Regions from separate parts of the Homo sapiens genome. Here all the other regions are reported to be linked to region 5. Evidence: microRNA targets listed by miRTarBase, many of them from high-throughput screens and not tested one by one. Region 5 holds a microRNA gene; each other region holds the end of a gene's coding sequence.
What was found. The annotated mature microRNA hsa-miR-4514 reads ACAGGCAGGAUUGGGGAA and lies in region 5 at 2,684-2,701, shown strand. An mRNA with a match to its seed (bases 2 to 7 or 8) in the 3' UTR can be bound and repressed. Matches are read on the target gene's strand: a 7mer-m8 pairs with bases 2 to 8, a 7mer-A1 pairs with bases 2 to 7 and ends in A, and an 8mer does both.

Region 1: miRTarBase lists RPL7L1 as a target of hsa-miR-4514. Seed matches in the 3' UTR shown: 7mer-A1 at 3,398-3,404 and 7mer-A1 at 315-321.
Region 2: miRTarBase lists FBXO17 as a target of hsa-miR-4514. Seed matches in the 3' UTR shown: 8mer at 3,587-3,594 and 7mer-A1 at 3,357-3,363.
Region 3: miRTarBase lists ASGR2 as a target of hsa-miR-4514. The part of its 3' UTR that is shown has no 7-base or 8-base seed match.
Region 4: miRTarBase lists RMI1 as a target of hsa-miR-4514. Seed matches in the 3' UTR shown: 7mer-A1 at 2,953-2,959.

Annotation. Positions count from the first base shown.
Region 1 is chr6:42,885,919-42,890,037 of GRCh38, reverse strand. RPL7L1 (ribosomal protein L7 like 1) reads right to left here. Exons shown (of 6, transcript NM_001366481.3): 5 at 3,955-4,064; 6 at 138-3,782. The coding sequence ends at 3,574. Among named protein-coding and RNA genes, the nearest start is that of PEX39, 2.8 kb to the left of the region's middle.
Region 2 is chr19:38,939,003-38,943,119 of GRCh38, forward strand. It overlaps FBXO17 (F-box protein 17), which reads right to left. Exons shown (of 6, transcript NM_024907.7): 6 at 2,399-3,749. The coding sequence ends at 3,606. LOC124904713 (a long non-coding RNA gene) reads right to left here and starts at 2,396. Exons shown (of 2, transcript XR_007067253.1): 1 at 2,212-2,396.
Region 3 is chr17:7,098,045-7,102,163 of GRCh38, reverse strand. ASGR2 (asialoglycoprotein receptor 2) reads left to right here. Exons shown (of 9, transcript NM_001201352.2): 8 at 1-74; 9 at 424-838. The coding sequence ends at 589. Among named protein-coding and RNA genes, the nearest start is that of ASGR2, 15 kb to the left of the region's middle.
Region 4 is chr9:84,002,376-84,006,485 of GRCh38, reverse strand. RMI1 (RecQ mediated genome instability 1) reads right to left here. Exons shown (of 3, transcript NM_001358291.2): 3 at 2,412-4,110. The coding sequence ends at 3,622. Among named protein-coding and RNA genes, the nearest start is that of RMI1, 24 kb to the right of the region's middle.
Region 5 is chr15:80,996,032-81,000,150 of GRCh38, reverse strand. It overlaps MIR4514 (microRNA 4514), which reads left to right and starts at 2,678; the gene lies at 2,678-2,734. RefSeq lists an enhancer at 2,094-2,595.

The DNA.
Region 1 (4,119 bases), not on the chromosome of region 5:
CTCTACAAAAGCTAGAATGTACCTGGTACGTGCTGACATGACCCTAACCCACAGACGATGTAACAGGTCTACCTTTTCTCAGAAAGGATTGTCTCACAACTTGTTCAACGAATTAGTTATGTCATGGTACATACATATAAGTGCGCAATTTTTGTAACATCTTTTATTTGTATACAATTATAAATTACAAACTTGTTTTATTAGGTTTTTTAAAATTTATTTTTCGTCAACTTAGTCCCTTTTATTTACCAGCAGTTTGCTCTGACAGAATAAATTACAAACTATTGTTTTGTTTAATCCCTTTAACCATCATGTCAGGCACACAGGTTGGAGAATATTAGCTCCCATTTTATGGACAGAGTGGAAACACTGTACCCATATTTAGTGTAAGACAGAGCTGGGATATAAGCCTTGGGCTTCCATAGTCACAACTGCTTTTTTGCATAACTTTGTAATACATCATTTTAAAGTAATCTGATTTCACAATGTTTTACAGTATAGGAGTAACATCTATAGCATCTCTTCTTGGCAGGTTACCTCTGGAGAGAACCAATCTAATTACCTCATACGCTGGCACTTTTTTTTTTTTTTTTTTTGAGACAGAGTTTTGCTTTTGTTGCCCAAGGTGGAGTGCAATGGTGTGATCTCGGCTCACTGCAACCTCTGCCTCCCTGGGTTCAAGCAATTCTCTTGCCTCAGCCTCCCAAGTAGCTGGGATTACAGGCATGCACCACCACATCCGGCTAATTTTGTATTTTCAGTAGGGACAGAATTTCTCCATGTTGGTCAGGCTGGTCTCGAACTCCTGACCTCAAGTGATCTGCCTGCCTCAGCCTCCTGAAGTGTTGAGATTACAGGTGTGAGCCACCGTGCCCAGCCTAAGCTGGCATGTTTTAAGGCAGTTACATCTCTAACTTGATTTACCAGCTATGCTTGAGGGTCCAAGGAGCCAAAATTGCAGCCAAACTGATCTTAAAGGACCAGGGAATAGAATGGTCAAGCATGTTTCCAAGTTTAACCTAGGCCTGGCACATCCTTGCCAATTGCTCAGATGGCAAGTGAGGGGCAACTAAGTGAAGAGAATAGCAGGAAGACCCACTTGGGGTGGACACTGATGAAAAACACAAGCAGTATCAGACTCACTGTTTTCAGGATTAAAATCCCCAGATGCCCTGTTATTGGTCTATGTCACTACCAGTAGGACAAAAGGCAATGCTTCTGAAGACTAGAATATGCAAGGAAAAAATTAAGGTGCCTGCCTGCCTGGGGCCTAACGAGCCAAACAGTGCTAATTTCATCCATGCCAAACAAAATTGTTCATTCCTTGCTGATTTGGGTTTTAAGGAACCATGCTGATCATCAGAGAAACCAGGCAATTCTATTCTGAAGCCCAGGGGAAGAAATGGTGGGGATTTCTGAGTTACAGATGGTGCAGGGGTTAACACTATCTGCCACTATGAAGGGAAAAATCTATCTTGGTAAACTTTGGTCTTCCATAGGACATGGAACCAGAGTAGCAAGATCAGGGCCTGCGTGACCGATCCTGATTGAGCAGGACTTCCTCACATAAGGTACACAAGAGCTGGGCGCAGTTGCTCATGCCTGTAATCCCAGCACTTTGGGAGGCCCAGGCTTGTGGATCACTTGAGGTCAGGAGTTTGAGACTAGCCTGGCCTACATGGTGAAACTCTGTCTCCATCTCTACTAAAAATACAAGAATTAGCTGGGTGTGGTGGTACATGCATGTAATCCCAGCTGATCAAGGGGCTGAGGCAGAATCACTTGAACCCAGGAGGTGGAGGCTGCAATGAGCTGAGATCATGCCACTGCGCTCCAGCCTGGGCAACAGGGTGAGACTGTCTCAAAGAGAAAAACAAAACCCATAAGATGCACAGGTATCTGAGAAGGGTCTAAACACCCTAGAACTGCAAGCAAAATTTTGAGTGTATACATGTTTTCCTGGCGAAGGGGTCCTCATTCTCAAATCCTGAGCTTTTAGGAAAAAGTACTAAGCCAGTTTCAGGTTACGATACAAAAGCCACCAGATACACTTAGAGCCAGTCAAGTTTGAGAATTCTCAAAGCCATCACTGAAAAGTTGGAACACATACTCACAGCAGAGACAAGTGAACATTTATTTTTATGCCTTTCTTCCTATGTGTATTTCAAGTCTTTTTCAAAACAAGGCCCCAGGACTCTCCAGATTCAATTATGTCCTTGGGCTTGGTCGACTGCTGCAGGAGTCTCAGGGAGCCTTCTACAAATGCTAGAGTGACTCATTTACCAACATTAAACCCTAGGATACATGCAACAAAGCAGGACTCCTTCCTCCATGGAATGTGCCGATTTCAGATGACACAGCACCCAATGCAGAAAACACTGGAATTTTTCCTTGGAACTCGACTGTGATGAGAGGTGCTTGACATGAACATATGCTACTGTCTTTTCTTTTTTTTTGAGACAGAGTTTCGCTTGTTGCCCAGGCTGGAGTGCAATGGCGTGATCTCAGCTCACTGCAACTTCCACCTCCCAGGTTCAAGCGATTCTCCTGCCTCAGCCTCCTGAGTAGCTGGGATTACAGGCACGTGCCACCATGCCCGGCTAATTTTTGTATTTTTAGTAGAGATGGCATTTCTCCATGTTGGTCAGGCTGGTCTCGAACTCCCAACCTCAGGTGATCTGCCCACCTCAGCCTCCCTAAGTGTTGGGATTACAGGCATGAGCCACCACGACCGGCCAGCTACTGTCTTTTCTTTGACCCTTTCCAGTTTCTGAAGATAAAGCAGGAAATAATCTTCTCTGAAGATACTTGATAAAAATTTCCAAAACAAAACACATGCTTCCACTTCACTGATAAAAAATTTACCGCAGTTTGGCACCTAAGAGTATGACAACAGCAATAAAAAGTAATTTCAAAGAGTTAAGATTTCTTCAGCAAAATAGATGATTCACATCTTCAAGTCCTTTTTGAAATCAGTTATTAATATTATTCTTTCCTCATTTCCATCTGAATGACTGCAGCAATAGTTTTTTTTTTTTTTTTTCCGAGATGGAGTCTCGCTCTGTCGCCCAGCTGGAGTGCACTGGTGCAATCTTGGCTCACTGCAATCTCTGCCTCCTGGGTTCAAGCGATTTTCCTGCCTTAGCCTCTCGAGTAGCTGGGACTACAGGCACGCGCCACCACACCCAGCTCATTTTTGTATTTTTAGTAGAGACAGGGTTTCACCATGTTGGCCAGGATGGTCTCAATCTCCTGACCTCATGGTCTGCCCGCCTTGGCCTCCCAAAGTGCTGGGATTACAGGCGTGAGCCACCGCGCCCGGCCAGCAATACAGTTTTTAGTTACTCGACATCTTTAAGCCTATAACTCTTAGGCTATGCATAGCCCCATGTCCTAATCAGGCATTCACTGATCCCAGCAGGTCTCCATCTATTTGTACCAGCCTCCTCTATTCCTCCCAATCTCAAGGTTACTCTTAAATACTAGTAAATGCAAAAAGAACTTGTAAAGTGGCAAGGCATGGCCTATCAAAAGTCAGCCCAAGGGCAGTTTTCAGCCCTGCCTCACCTGGGTCTAGTTCAGCTGACGGATGAGCTGATTGATGCGTTCACCCCGATAGCCAGGTGTGCCCATCTCCTTGAGGAAGCCCACTCTATTTTTGGTAGCATGACGGGCCACTGAGAGGTGGAAAGGGCACAAGAACCATGAGATCTCCTGGAAATGCTTCCCTGGGAAGGCAATTTCATGAATGAGGTCTTCCAAGCAAATGACGCCAAACTTCCCTAAGAAACACAAAAGCACAGATTCCTTTATTTAACATGTATCCAGCATATACTAAGCTGGCCACTCTGGCAGACTCTTGGGGCCCCAAGAAGAATACAACCTGAATCTCACATCAAAGCTTCAAAGACCCTGGCTTTCTGCCCCAGCTGATCCCTAAGCTGTAGCACTCACCCAGGTGCTCCTCAATCACTGTATTGTCTGTCAGAGGGATGGTCTTATTCTTGACCTTGGCTTGTCCACGTTTCAAAATGAGTTCTCGGACAGACTTCAGATTTGGAAATCTATGTAGGAAAATAAAGCACGGTTTTCACCAGCACCTGGCACACTACATACCAG
Region 2 (4,117 bases), not on the chromosome of region 5:
AAACTTGTATTTCTGCTTGAAGCGGTTCCTTCAAACCTTGTAAATTTTTTCCTAGTCCCATACTAGGGACATACCCCATTTCATGCATCATATGTTGACTTTGAGGGCTATATAATTGTTCTGGAATTAGAACTTGTGCTCCGCATTGTTGTAATAAATATCTTCCCCATAAATTTATAGGTACAGAAGTTTTGGTTGAATAGTCCCAGGTTGTCCATCAGGCCCTTCACAATGCAAAATATAACTACTTTGATATACTTCAGGGGCTTTACCAACTCCAACTATGTTAAACTGAGCAGGTTGAATTGGCCATGTGGACGGCCATTGCTATAGAGAAATGAAATGTCCGCTCCTGTATCTACCAAACCTTTATATTTCTTTCCCTGAATAGTTATTTCACAGGTAGGACGTTTATCAGTAATTTGATTCACCCAATAAGCTGTTTTGCCTTGTTTATTTGTGCTTCCAAATCCTCCTGTTCGTTTAATTTCACTTTTTCCCATTCCCACATATGGCACATTCAGGAGCTGTGCTATGCGCTCTCCTGGCTCTGCTTTCCAGGGAACAGAAGTAGAAAAAACAATTTGAATTTCTCCATTGTAATCTGAATCAGTGACTCCTGTTTGTACTTGTACCCCCTTTAAATTTAAACTACACCTCCCTAGAAGTAATCCTATTGTCCCCACTGGCAAGGGTCCACAGACCCCTGTTGGAACTTTTTGCGGGGGTTCCTCAGGCAGAAGGCTCACAGCTTTTGTGCAGCATAAATCTACTGTGGCATTACTGGCTGTGGCAGGGGACAGACATTGTACAGGGGTGAAGGAGTGGCCTGAGGCGGAAATGCCCCTGGTTTCGAACAGGGCCCGGGATGGGCCCCTCATGGCATTTCCCGAAATCGGGTTCCCATCTTTATCAAACTTAGAGTGACACTGATTAGCCCAATGTTTTCCTTTTTTTACATTTTGGACATATATCAGGCTCAGCAGTTTTCTTTTTTCCCCTGTCTGCCGGCCTGACTTGCTGATTTTTTTCTGCATTCTTTTTTAGTGTGCCCATGCTTCCCACAGTTGAAACAAGCTCCAGGAAATGGAGTATTTCCTTTATCCACTTTCAGTCCTGCCATTGCCTGTGCCAACAAAGTAGCTTTATGCAGATTACCTCTGATACCATCTCAGGCCTTGATATAATCAACTAAATGTGCTTTCCCTCTAATAGGTCACAGAGCAGCCTGGCAATTGAGATTAGCATTGTCAAAAGCTAATAACCGCAACACTATATCCTGAGCAGCCGAATCTGCAATCACCTTTTTAAGATACTCCTGTAACCGAGCTATAAAATCTGTGTACGGTTCTTTTGGTCCCTGTTTTACAGCACCAAAGGAAGGGTACTGTTCTCCACCTGAAGTGATTTTTTCCCAAGCTCTGATGCACACTCCTCTAAGCTGCTCTATGGCATCATCCTGCATGACCACCTGTGCATCTAAACCAGCCCAGCCGCCGACCCCCAAAAGTTGGTGTGCAGTTATATCAATTTGAGGTTGGGCCTGGGTGTTGCGAGGAGCCTGAATGGAAGCTTCATCTGCCCACCAAGTTTTAAATTGTAAGAACTGAGCAGGAGTTAGACAAGCTCAAGTAAGAGCGTCCCAGTCAGGAGGAATCATCCGACTGGAAACAGCAACATTCTTTAACAGTCCCGTTACAAAAGGAGAACCTGGTCCATATTGATTAATAGCTTGTTTAAATTCTTTGAGTAATTTAAAAGGAAAAGGCTCAAATGTAGCTGTAATATTTCCCTGTTGATCTGGGGGATGTATTCTAACAGGGAACTGCCAAGCCTCTAAATCACCCTCTCTTCTAGCTTGCTGAATTCCTGCCTGAATGGAACTGAGAGCAGTCGCTTGAGGCACTGCCCAAACAGTCACTGGGGCAACTACTTTTCACCCAGTGTCCTCTGGAAAAGAAAGATCTGGAGGGTCAGGTCACTCTTTTTCTTCACACTAAGGAGGGGATGCAGAAGGGTAGGGATGAACCTCTTCCTCCTTTGCCACTTTAGCTTTAGCTGGCAAACAAACCTGCTCTGTTACCTCTTCCATTACTTCATTACACTCTCCCTGCTCCTCATCAGTGTGAAAAGGTTCCAAGGTGGAATGAACCAGAACCCACACCTGTCCCATTGCTACCCTGATGCTTCCGAGCTCCCCTTCTTACTCACCATGGGGATTGCTTAAGAGTACTCGGGTGTCCTCCAGCTTAGTTCCACGTTCTCCAACCGTCGCTCCAGTGACTCTTCGACCTGGGTTCGAGCCCCCACGTATGGGTGCCACTTGCCGAGACCAGCTCGGTTGTGGAGACCCTAACCCAGCGGTGCTAGAGGAATTAAAGACACATACACAGAAATATAGGGTGTGGAGTGGGAAATCAGGGGTCTCACGGCCTTCAGAGCTGAGAGCCTTGAACAGAGATTTACCCACATATTTATTGACAGCAAGCCAGTGATAAGCATTATTTCTATAGATTATAGATTAACTAAAAACATTTCTTACAGGAAATAAAGGGATGGGCTGAAATAAAGGGATGGGTCTGGCTAGTTATCTGCAGCAGGAACATGTCGTTAAGGCACAGATCACTTATGCTATGGTTTGTGGTTCAGGAACCCCTTTAAGCGGTTTTCCGCCCTGGGTGGGCCAGGTGTTCCTCGCCCTCGTTCCAGTAAACCCACAACCTTCAGGGTGGGGGTCATGGCCATCACAAACATGTCACAGTGCTGCAGATATTTTGTTTATGGCCAGTTTTGGGGCCAGTTTATGGCCAGATTTGGGGGCCTGTTCCCAACACCAGAGATTTCCCCAAACAGCAGATGACTTTGTTAGTCTCAAGGACAGACTGCCTCAGCGGACCTCTGCTCCCTGCCCACGATCATTACCCCCAAAACATGCCGGCAAGTCTCTGCTCCCTGCGTCGGCAGAGGGATTTATAAGCCCTCTCTTATAAATCCTGGTTTAGCCTTTGTTTTGTGACTGAGTCCACCGAGATCCTTGCAGGAGAAGAAAATTTGCAGGCAAATGAACTAAATGTCTCTTCCTGACACTCCCCTTCTGGGGGGCTGAGGAAGCTGTGAACAGCCTGGTTTGTCACACAGCATGATGGCCACCACACTGAAGCAGCAGCAAGCAGATTCATGGAAGGTGTGCTGAGAACCAGCCACCTGGGAGCCCTACTGTCCCTGGGTATCCTCTGGCTTCTGGCTGCAAAGCTGGTCTTTTTTTTTTTTTTTTTCATTGATATAGGGTCTTGCTTTCTCACCCAGGCTGGAGTGGTGGTGAAATCACGGCTCACTGCAGCCTCAACCTCCTGGTCTCAGGCAATCCTCCCACCCAAGCCTCCTGAGTAGCTGGGACTACAGGCGGCACCACCATGCCTGGCTAATTTTTTAAAAATTATTTGTGGAGACGGTTTCACTATGTTGCCCAGGCTGGTCTTGAACTCCCGAGCTCCAGTGATCCTCCCACCTCGGCCTCCTGAAGTGCTGGGATTCCACAGGTGTGAGCCACTGCACCTGGCTGCAAGGCTGGTCTTGACTGACAACGTCAGGCAGTAGTCCAGTCGCTAGGACAGACGGATCCTGACCCTCACACTGGAGTGGGTCACAAGGGCGCCATAGTGCCCCACCCAGGAACTCACGTCTCTCCCGTACTGCTCAAAAGATACGTAGCGGATGCCCTTGCCAAAGTTGGTGAAGACGTGGGAGACCTGCAGGGGGAAGGGGAGTGAGAGGGTGAGGGCCTGCGGGCCCCTTCTCTTCCTCCACTTCAACAGATAGGCCCAAAGGACTGAGGAGGTGCCAGTCCTGCGCTAGTTTGCTGGGGACGGAGCAGTGAATAAAACCGGAAAAGGACCCCGCCCTGGTGTCAGTGCCATTCTAGCAGGGGGCCCAGACACTGGAGATAGGTGGGGGTGAGGGGCCAGGGGCATTCTGCCAGGAAGGTGGCAGGAATGTGAGTAGAGTGAGTTAGCAAAGGCCCCACAGAGGTGACACCTGAAGGAGGAGAGGGAGCCGGGAGGGGCTCTGGAGGGTGTCCCAGGCAGCAGGAACGGCCCGCGCAAAGGCCCTGAGGTGG
Region 3 (4,119 bases), not on the chromosome of region 5:
ACCTGGATAGGTCTCACGGACAGTGATGGCTCTTGGAAATGGGTGGATGGCACAGACTATAGGCACAACTACAAGTAAGTGGCCTCTTCCCTCATCTCCTTGTTAGATTTCTCTGGGGACAGCCCCCTGGCCTTTCACTCCAAGCTACCCTGACTCGTCCCTCAGGGACCAAATTCCCCAATCCTCTCCTCCCCAGACTCCAACCCCTCCAAAGCTGTGCTCTTCTGGGCTGGGGGTGAGGGTTGCTGGGACTGGGCATAGGAAACATCTTTCTCTGCGGTTGGGTTCTCCCCAGACTGGGTAGCAGGGCACACCCCAGCTCCACTCTCGGCCTTCAAGGAAAATGGTCATGAAGAGGAGGAGGATGGGTAAGTCGCTTTCTCACCACCGTGGCAGAGTCCGAGTTTTCTCTTGCCTCCTTAGGAACTGGGCTGTCACTCAGCCAGATAATTGGCACGGGCACGAGCTGGGTGGAAGTGAAGACTGTGTTGAAGTCCAGCCGGATGGCCGCTGGAACGATGACTTCTGCCTGCAGGTGTACCGCTGGGTGTGTGAGAAAAGGCGGAATGCCACCGGCGAGGTGGCCTGACCCCAGCACACCTCTGGCTAACCCATACCCCACACCTGCCCAGCTCTGGCTTCTCTGTTGAGGATTTTGAGGAAAGGAAGAAACACTGAGACAGGGGTATGGGGAAGAGCTGAGCAAAGAGAGAAAGGAGGTAGTTTAAGAGTCCCTGACCCTGGAGGACTGAGATCCCACCTCCTTCTGTAATTCATTGTAATTATTATAATCGTCAGCCTCTTCAATGGCGTAGGAAAGAAGAAACAAATGCTTGAATCTCTGTGTGGCCTGGTTATTGGGAACTGAGAAACAGCATGCAAAGAGGAGGGAGAGGGGAGGGCATGGAAGACGCAAGGCGCGCATCCTAGACAGCTGCTCCTTGGTCCCTAATCCCGAGGGACATTGGTCAGGGAAACGGGAAAGGGGCTTGGAGCAGACAGGCTTAGTGGCTGGCACTGGTGGGAAAGGGGTCGGCCGGGCTGTGGCTGGAGGGTCCGCCTGGCTCCCAGTGAGAGGTGACAGCGTGCTGGCAGTCCTCACAGCCCTCGCTCGCTCTCGGCGCCTCCTCTGCCTGGGCTCCCACTTTGGCGGCACTTGAGGAGCCCTTCATCCCGCCGCTGCACTGTGGGAGCCCCTTTCCGGGCTGGCCAAGGCCGGAGCCGGCTCCCTCAGCTTGCAGGGAGGTGTGGAGGGAGCGGCGCTTGCGGGCCAGCGCGATTTCCGGGTGGGCGTGGACTCGGCGGACCCCGCACTCGGAGTGGCCGGCCTGCCCCACCGGCCGCGGGCAGTGATGGGCTTAGCACCTGAGCCAGCAGCTGCTGTGCTCAATTTCTCGCCACGCCTTAGCTGCCTTCCCGCGGGGCAGGGCTTGGGACCCGCAGCCCGCCATGCCTGAGCCTCCCCGACCCCCGCTCCGTGGGCTCCTGTGCGGCCCGAGCCTCCCCGACCAGCGCCGCCCCCTGCTCCAGGGCGCGCTCAGTGCCATCGACCACCCAAGGGCTGAGGAGTGCGGGCGCAGGGCGCGGGACTGGCAGGCAGCTCCACCTGCGGCCCCAGTGCAGGATCCATGGGGTGAAGCCAGCGGGGCTCCTGAGTCTGGTGGGGACTTGAAGAACCTTTATGTCTAGCTAAGGGATTGTAAATGCACCAATTGGCACTCTGTATCTAGCTCAAGGTTTGTAAACACACCAATCAGCACCCTGTGTCTAGCTCAGGGTTTGTGAATGCACCAATTGACACTCTGTATCTAGCTACTCTGGTCGGGAAGTCGAGAACCTTTGTGCCTAGCTCAGGGATTGTAAACGCACCAATCAGGCCAGATAAGAGAATAAAAGCAGGCTGCCCCAGCCAGCAGCGGCAACCCACTCGGGTCCCCTGCCACACTGTGGAAGCTTTGTTCTTTCGCTCTTTGCAATAAATCTTGCTGCTGCTCACTCTTTGGGTCCACACTGCCTTAAGAGCTGTAACACTCACCACGAAGTTCCGCAGCTTCACTCCTGAGCCAGTGAGACCATGAACCTACCAGAAGGAAGAAACTCTGAAGACATCTGAACATCAGAAGGAACAAACTCCAGACACGCCGCCTTTAAGAACTGTAACACTCACCGCGAGGGTCCGCGGCTTCATTCTTGAAGTCAGTGAGACCAAGAACCCACCAATTCCGGACACACCAGGGCTCCCAAAGGAAACATCTTTCTCTGCGGTTGGGTTCTCCCCAGACCGGGTCGCAGGGCATACCCCAGCTCCACTCTCAGCCTTCAAGGAAAATGGTCACGACGAGGAGGAGGATGGGTAAGTCACTTTCTCACCACCGTGGCTCTGTCTTTTTGACCCCAAGCGGATCTAGACATATCTTCAACACAGGGTGTCACCAACAATCTCCACAGTGGGCAAACTTCCCGCTCCAAGAACATTCTGAAACTGACCTTAAAAAGACTATTCAGCGGTTATATTATTTATTTAAGTTGGAGTCTTGCTGTGTTGCCCAGGCTGGAGTGCAATGGTGCGGTCTTGGCTCACTGCAACCTCCACCTCCCGGGTTCAAGCGATTCTTCTGCCTCAGCCTCCCGAGTAGCTGGGATTACAGGCATGCGCCACCACACCCAGCTAATTTTTGTATTTTTAGTAGAAACAGCGTTTCGCCATGTTGGCCAGGCTGATCTTGAACTCCTGACCTCGGGTGATCCGCCCGCCTCTGCCTTCCAAAGTGCTGGGATTATAGGCATGAGCCACGGGGCCCGGCCCCATATTTTTAAATTTTTAAAGTACAGAAGTAATACATTCTATTAGTAAAAAAATGTTTTAAATGACACACACACACGCACGCACACGAGTGTCCTCTCAGTCCTCCTCCGTCTCCCCAGAGTCAACTCTTTCCTGTGTCCCCTGCCAGAGCCCTTCCTGTGTACATGAGTAGATGCAATATTATGTCATTACATAGTGCCTGTTCCGCTTCACAGTGTCTCGTGGACACCAGTCTAATCTATGCCATTACCTGGCAGGTTTTACCTCCTTGGATTTAGCAGCTGTAGAGAATTCCAAAGTAGGGATGTACCATGCATTATGTAATCATTCTCTGTAGGGGGCAAGTAGTTACCACTTTTGTTTCTTTGTTTTCACATAGAATGTTTCAAAGTAATTTTTTTGCTCATAAGCTTGGGATAGGTCAAGACTTCCCACTTTTCAGTTGAAAAATTTTCTAGGATTGCCCCTTCAAAATGTACACGATTGGGATTAAATTTAAAAAACCGTGAAAATAGGCTGGGTGCAATGGCTCATGCCTATAATCTTAGCATTTTGAGAGGCTGAGGTGGTGGGTCGCCTGAGCTCAGGAGTTTGAGACTAGCCTGGGCAATATGGCGAAACCCAGTCTGTACAACATGCACACACACACACACACACCCCAGCTGGATGTGGTGGTGCATCCCTGCAGTCCCAGCTACTTGGGAGGCTGAGATGAGGGGATAGTTTGAGCCCAGGAAATTGAAGCTGCAGTGAGCTGTGACTGTGTCACTACACTGCAGCCTGGGTAAGACAGCGAGATCTTTTCTCAAAAAATAAATTATGGAAGTAATAATACACTCTAAAGTTTTATAGGACTAGAATTTTTATAGAAAAGTAGAAATTTTATAAAGTCTATAAAACTAGAAGTATAAAGTCTATAAAACTAGAAGTTTTACAGGGCTCTAGGTTACTTGACCTGCCCCCTTTAGCTCCTCTTGCTGCCTGGAGAAACTGCTTTCAGTGATTCTAGCTGTTTCTTCTAGTACTGACATCTGCAGTTCTAAGTAAGACACACAAACTGATATTTCATCTTCGTATGAGTTGTAGACATTATTTAGTCGCTATCATGTAAACGAGGTAAAATCTTCCAATGTAGTCTACAATTTATATTTAAATACTACTTTAAAATTTGTATCAGTTGTATCTGTGTCAATATGGTTACTGCTGAGTCAACTACTATAATCTGATTACATTCCCTTTCTTGCACAACTCTCATTTCTTCTGAAAGTAGTCAGTATTCCATTAAAAAAATTTGCCTCATATTCTTTTAACTT
Region 4 (4,110 bases), not on the chromosome of region 5:
ATGTACAGACATTTTTTCCTTGTCATTATTCTCTAAACAATACAATATAACAACTATTTACATAGCAGTTACATTGTATTAAGCACTTTAGGAGGCAGAGGCAGGACAATTGCTTGAGGACAGGAGTTGGAGACCAGCCTGGCCAACATGGTGAGACACTATCTCTACAAAAAAAGTTTAATTAGCTGGGCGTGGTGGCATACACCTGTGGTCCCAGCTACTCGGCAGGCTGACACAAGAGGATCACTTGAACCCAGGAGGTCAAGGCCGAAGTAAGCTGTAATTGTGTCACTGCACTCTAGCCAGGGTGACAGAACAAGACCCTGTCTCAAACAAAAAAAAAGAATTATAAGTAACCTAGAAATTAAATTATTTAAAGTATATGGGAGTATGTGCATAGGTTATATGCAAATACTGTGCCATTTTATATCAGAAACTTGAGCATCTGGATGTTGGTATCCGTGGAAGGTTCGAAACCAGTCCCTCATGGATATCAAAGGGCTACTGTACTCTGAAAGCAGAGTCACTCCCAAGAGAAAGAGAAAGCTCATCTGATTATGCTTATTTTTTTCTTCCCATTTGCTTCTCCCAGGAACTCTTAGGATCGTTCTTTTTTGTGTTAAATTATTAGGCCGGAGATTACCGTGCAGGTAACTTTTAAGTGTCTGGTTAGCCCCACATAAGCACAGACCTATGGCTACAAATTCTCAGGGAAAAGAACACATTTTCCCCCACCCAACCAGAATCTAAACCAAGTCATCCAAGTTTTCTCAGTCACTCTTTACTATAGGCCAGATTTTTCTAATCTATTCTTTTTTTTTTGAGATGGAGTCTCACTGTCGCCAGGCTGGAGTGCAGTGGCACGATCTTGGCTCACTGCAGTCTCCGCCTCCCAGGTTCAAGCAATTCTCCTGCCTCAGCCTCCCGAGTAGCTGGGACTACGGTGCGCACCGCCATGCTGAGCTAATTTTTTTGTATTTTTAGTAGAGACAGGGTTTCATCATGTTGGCCAGGATGGTCTTGATCTCCTGACCTTGTGATCCGCCTGCCTCAGCCTCCCAAAGTGCTGGGATTACAGGCTTGAGCCACCACGCCCGGCCCTAATCTATTCTTTCACTAAAGAGAGCAGCTCTTTGAGATGCTGTGTATGCATAGATGTCAGGGCTTTAAGTACCATGCTATTGGAATGGATGACGGGAAATCACAAAAGATATTAGGCAACAGAAGATGATCAGATTTGATGAAATATTACTGGAGCTACAAGGTAAACCCCTCAACCATACTGTCAAGCAGCTTATATTCCAACAGAACAATGGTTCTCAACTGGGGGCATCTCCAGCTCCAGTGACTATCTGGCAATGCCTGGAGAGATTTTTGGTTGTCACAGCTGGAAGGATGCTGCTCACATCCAGTGGGCAGAGGCCAAAGATGTTGCTAAATATCCTACAATGCACACAGGACAGCCCCATAAGACTTATCCTACCAAAAACGTAGCAGCAGAATAACAGAGAAACAAGCACAGTAAAAACACACATAATATTAGTCTGTACAACGTACAGGAGAGCATGCAAGTGGGCAGGGGAATTCATGAAACACTGTAACAGGCACCTAAAGCTTAAACTGAATTGGAAATGATTTAGGAAGGTAGGGGGATCAGGCACTATAAGCATGAGTATGAAAGTAAGAGGTATATTCTTCCACATGTTTAGTGCACTACAAATAACTTGGTACCCCTAAAACTCAGAGGCAAAGAGTAATGGGGCAAGATAAGGCTAAAAAAGAAGTCAGGGGCCAGATCACGAAAGTCCTTACTTACTCAATGAGGAGTTTGGACTTCACCCTATAAGTAATGGGGTGGGAGGAGGTTGGTATTAAAGGTTAATGAAGAGAAAACAAGAAGAAACTTATTTTCGAAAGATCACTCTGCTAACATTATGGAGTACGGTTTGAGGGCAAAATAAGATAAAAGACCAATTAGTAAACCACTGCAGTAATCCAGGCCAGAGAAGACTAGAAACAGGATGTACCAAGAACCAATATAGTAGCATAGATTGATAAAAAGTACGATAGCCAGTCTTTAATGACAATATGAAAAGAAGTTCTAATCCCAATTTTCAAGCCCCATTCACAGAGATGAGAGTATAGAAGGAGAAAATTTAATGAAAAGATAATGAAAGATAAAGCTATCCCATTCAGATCACTTATTAAAAAGCTATGCAAGTATATAGACAAGATTATTACTAGGGCATATATTAGCAATATCTGTGTCCTGGTGCTTTGAACCCTGATACAACAATGAAAATATTTTAAAATCTTTCTCTTCTACTTCTATTATCATACATCATACATGTATTTATCTTACTTCCTGATATTTCGTTACATTATTTTCAATAAAATAAAACACCAATGTATTTTGTTATTTAAGGATTTGTTTAATGTTTTAAAATTCAAAGCACTTTAAATTATTTTAAGACAAAAGATTAATAAAAACAACATTACCTTTCAAATACAACTTTATAACAGCACAGTGGAAGAATGGTAAACAGTCCCTCTTTTTTTTAAAAAAAAATCAGTACTTAAAACCAAAGGAAGGCTTATATGTACAGCTAATTCAGAAAGGGAACAATGACACCTAAAGACATAGATAAATGCTTCATTTTAATCCAATAAATGTCCTACCTACTGGATCTTAATAATGATGTTTTCAATATGCCATTTAAAATAAACTATCCTTGAAAATAAAGTTTTAAATCATTCAATATAATCTATGAAATAGCATCTAGTTAACTAGATTACCTTAAATATACCAAATATTATAATCAGCAAAATAAAAACCAGTAAATCAATTTGTATCTGAAAGCCTGATGTTCTGATCTACTGGATTTTAATTTTTTTTCCCTAAGATTAACAATATAAACAAATCTTTTGGGTACTCAACATATTATGACAAGCTCAGGCATGTTCAGGGTGGTATGGCCATAGACAGTACCAACATATTAGAAGGAAATTACCTATTTATAATTATTAACTTTCAAAAATATGACTCACCACCGAACACCAGTACAATATTTTAGCAATCATCTTATGTGACGTGACAAGTGGAAAACAAATTTCTCAACAATAGTGGGTCACCATATTCCTCCATCTAACAGTTACTTTTAAAAAAAGTAAACTTTGGAGGCCATGACGGCAGGAGTGAGAGGCCAGGAGTTTGAGACCAATCTGGGCAACATAGCAAAACTCTGTCCCTACAAAACAATAATAGTAATTATAAATTAGCTGGGCATGGTGGTACATGCCTATAGTCCCAGCAACTCAAGAGGCTAAGGCAGGAGGATCGCTTGAGCTCAAGAGGTTGATGCAATAACCTATGATCATGCCACTGCACTCTAGCCTGGGCAACAGAGCAATACCCTGACATTAAAAAAAAAAAAAAAAAGATTAACTTATTTTCAAAAGCTCCACATATAACAAACATGATTAAACACTTTAAAATTAAACTGAAATAAGCTATGAAATTTCATTTTTCCTTTTTACACAAAGTATCATAAGTAAAATTGTGAACAAATTCTAAATATTTCCTTGTTGTTTTTAATTGTTCCTAATACTATTTTAGTTTAATTATTTATTTAACCGCTTCTTTAGATTCTCAAGGTGTTCCATATTAACATCTTGTAATGCCAGTACCATTGCTTTAGACAAGGAAGGATTAAATGAAATAGTCATTAGACAGCACAAATCTATTAGATCTCTTTGACATTTCTGCAACCCTTCCAGGAACTTTTGGTATTGAAGAGGATCCTTTTTTGACTGTTTCATTTCTGGTACTGAGAACCCTATCAAGCTAGTAAGTATTTCATCCACAAAGTCTACATCTAGATATGCAGTACCATCAGACACCTTTGCAGTTATACTCCAAATACCACCAGAACTTGAGAGATTTCCAGTTAAGGTTACAATAAATGCTTTCACTTTCACTGTTGTAACTTCCTTTGGTTTGCTGGCCATTAGAACAGACAAATAGACAAAGGGTGGAGAATACAAATCCATGGCAATAGAAAGATTAATGCTATTCTCTGATGATCTTAAAGAACAACTCTGTAAATTACA
Region 5 (4,119 bases):
TCCTAAACAGTAGCTGTTAGAATTATTATGAGCCCTGATCAGCGCACTTTGCCCTCTCATAACGTCTATTTATTCGTCTGTATAATGGAATAATAGTGGCTGCTGTTAAATGAATTAAATACGACGGCGTTTGGAGGGAAACATTACTACTCCAGTTTTACAGATAAGGAAACTGATGATCAGGTGCTTGAAGTGACTTCCGAAGATCAGGAAGACAGCATATGGCAGGGACAGGAACCCACGCCTACGCCCCAGCCTCTTTTTACCGAACCTTGTTCTTCAGGAAGTGGTTAAAACACCTGGGCTACTCCCAGCAAAACGCCAGTCACGCAGTCCTGAAACAGGTCCTCTAAGGTGCCCAGCCCAACACAGGCTGGGCGTGCTGAGCCAACAGAATGTTTGTTCCTCTGTCCCTTCCTAGAACCCCAAGTCACCTTTCTCCAGCCAGTTAAAAACGTTACTTTTAACTAGGATGACGTTTCAATTTATCGGCCATATCCAAGCATTTCTGAGAATGAACTGTGAGACATGCTATTAATAAATTAACCATGAACAGCAGGTTCAAACCTGGATGGATAGTCATCCTACTTATAACTGAAAGTATCCTTAAATATCTTTAGAATCCGGATGAGCCCACTTAGTTTGCAAACCGAGGTCAATAAAACTGACTTGAAATAGGAAGTAATTATGTAGGGTTAATTCCTTTTTTTCTTCTACAAGAGAAAAAAAAAACAGCTGGATAAGTCAAGGTTTTTCCATGGTGACCCAGGGATTGCACCTTAGTCCTTCTTAAGCTCCAAAAACTTATGAGAGGGGGCCGAAAGCGATGGCTCACACCTGTAATCCCAGCACTTTGGGAGGCCAAGGCAGGCGCATCACGAGGTCAGGAGATCAAGACCATCCTGGCTAACACAGTGAAACCCCGTCTCTACTAAAAATGCAAAAAATTAGCCGGGCATGGTGGCGGGCGCCTGTAGTCCCAGCTACTCGGGAGGCTGAGGCAGGAGAATGGCATGAACCCGGGAGGCGGAGCTTGCAGTGAGCGGAGATCGCGCCACTGCACTGCAGCCTGGGCGACAGAGGGAGACTCCGTCTCAAAAAAAAATAAATAAATAAATAAATAAAACTTATGAGAGGGAAGTCAGACTGTTCTGTGCCTAGTTTATTCTTGAGGCTGCTCTAAGATCAGATTTTTTTTCCAAAGCCACGTAGTGCCCCTGGGGGTCCCATTTTCCCTTTCTTCTACATATGCAGTCTGTTTTGTTGTTGATGGAAACCCACCCCGACAATGAGTTGTGTTACACACAGACTGTCCACTCTATTCAGTGAGGTTTGGTTTCATTTTTAAAACTGATAGCATTGTTTTCTCGGCCTTCCCTGCTTCATTTTTCAGATAGGGAAGCTCCTAAACTGATCCTCCCAGGCACTGCCTCCACCTTTCTTTAGGTTCACCTTTACTTTGTCCGATTGTTCAATCACTCCACAATCACTGGGCACCAGTCTTGTGCTAGGCACCAAAGTTACATAATTTGTAATATGAGGCCCCCACTCTTTAGAGTCCAGGGATAGGAGTAGATTCACAAGAAACAGCCACAATTTCACTATTGGCACAGTGAGAGCACAGAGTAAAAAACCTATAGCAGAGATAATCAGGCTTCACAGATACAATATTTGTAGGTAGGCAGGGCCATGTGGTTCTGTCTGACCAATGAAATGTAAGGGGAAGCTATGCAGGTTACTTCTAGGCTGAGACAATGAAAAGCCAATCTGTAATTCTCCACTCTCTTGCCCTCCTATAACTACCACGGAGACTGCATTCTAGTTGGTGGAGCCTCTGTAAGCTTAGGTGACCATGTGGAGCAGACCCTCTTGATCTGTAGTGGACATGCAATGTGAACACAAAGTAAATTATTGGTGTGTTAAGTCACAGAGATTTGAGGGTTGTCTGTTGCTGTTGCATATTTTTAGTCTAATTAGAGGATGGCTTGTTGGTGTCTGCCCTTAGAGTCACTCAAGCAATGGCTTTTTCTTTAGAAAACTCCACCTATTACCCCTTCTAACCCTCTCAAAATTAAAATAAATATAAATCAAAAGTATTTGCTGTGATCTGACCCCCAAATTCATATGTTAAAACTTAATCACCAGTGTCACAGTATTACAAGGTGAGCCTTTGGGAGATGGTTAAGTCATGAGGTGGAGCCCTCTTGAATGGGGTTAGTGGCCTTATAAAAGAGGTGTGAGAGAGTTGTTCACCTCTTTTGCCCTTTCATCATGGGAGGATGCAGCAACATAGAGGACGCATCATCTATGAGGAATGGGCCCCTGCTGGGGCCTTGATCTTCTACTTCCCAGCTCTAGAGCTGTGAGCAATAAATTTCTATTAGTTATAAATTACCCAGTCTAAGGTATTTTGTTATAGCAGCTCAAATGGACTAAGTATTTTTTTTTTTAATGGATGTTGAGTGAGAGAAGAAAGCGGAAAATGTGTGGACTGAGGATTGGCTGAGGGAAGGTAAATGGAGTGGATGAGAGGGAGCTGGTAAATGGCCTGGCCCCTAGAGAATGCATTCTCAATACTGGCTCAAGGCCTACACTGAAATAGGCATCTGATGAAAAGTAAGTGAACAAGTTGCAAAGAGAGAACTGAGGATTTGGGCAGGACAAGAGGAACTGACAGGTTGAGACAGGCAGGATTGGGGAAACATCTTTTACCTCGTCTCTTGCCTGTTTTAGAAGGTGCATCCACCACTTGGTATAAGAGAACATTATGGGCATTCTGTTTTGTTTTTATGTTTTAAATCGTGGTAAAATAGCATAATATCATCTTACCCATTGTTAAGTACATTATCGTGCAACCATCACCATCCTCTATCTCCAGAAATGTTTAATCTTGCCCAACTGAAACTCCATACCCATTAAGTAACTGCTCCCCACTCCCCCTTCCTCCAGTCCCTGGCAACCACCATTCTACTTTCTCTATGAATTTGACTACCCTAGGTACCTCATGTTAGTGGAACCATACAATATTTGTTATTTTGTGCCTGGCTTATTTCACTTAACATAATATCTTTTTTTTTTTTTTTTTTTTTTTTGAGACGAGGTCCGGCTCTGTCTCCCAGGCTAGAGCACAGTGGCGCGATCTCGGCTCACTGCAAGCTCCGCCTCTCGGGTTCATGCCATTCTCCTGCCTCAGCCTCCCGAGTAGCTGGGACTGCAGGCACCCACCACCACACGCAGCTAATTTTTTTTTGTATTTTTAGTAGAGACGGGGTTTCACTGTGTTAGCCAGGATGGTCTCGATCTCCTGACCTCGTGATGCGCCTGCCTTGGCCTCCCAAAGTGCTGGGATTACAGGCATGAGCCACGTGCCCAGCCTTAACATAATGTCTTTAAGATTCATTGATATTATAGCATACATGGGAATTTCCCTTCTTTTTTATGGGTGAACGGTATTCCATTGTAAGCACTCCGGATCTTTTCATTCTATCAAAAATTTATTTATTTATTTATTTAGTAGCGAGAAAGTCTCAGAGACACAGTCTCACTTTGATATCCAGACTGGTCTCACACCCTTGGCCTCAAGTGGTCCTCTCACCTTAGCCTCCCAAAGTGCTGAGATTACAGGTGTGAGCCTGTCTGGCCACTCTGGGTTTTGATACCCAACTTTCACACTACCCCACACTTTACAGACCAACAACCATGCTGTGTTTGGTCTGTAGTGCCACCTGTTGGTCAGTAAGAGGCATTCTCTGCCCTAATTATTTTTCCCTTTGGAGCAATGTCCCTCTGTTTTGCTTTTGTGCACACAGATGGGCCAATTACATCTCAGGCTATCTTTCTTATACATATGCATTATTTCCCTTTCACTATCTGTTGTAAAAGAGAGGAATTTATATCTCTCCTTCTTTTCCCCAGATTCCTTCATTGTCATAGGTGATGCATGACAACAGCCCCTGGTTCACCAGGGAGCAAGATCACTGTCTAACACCTCGCTCTCCTTACCTGGCATGTCCTCTTGCTCTCTGGCATATTTTGTTCCCATCCAGTAAGAACACCTGGGCAGTACCTCACACATCACTCCCATTTCCTCCCCAGCCCCACTTTCCACCCTCCCTTCCT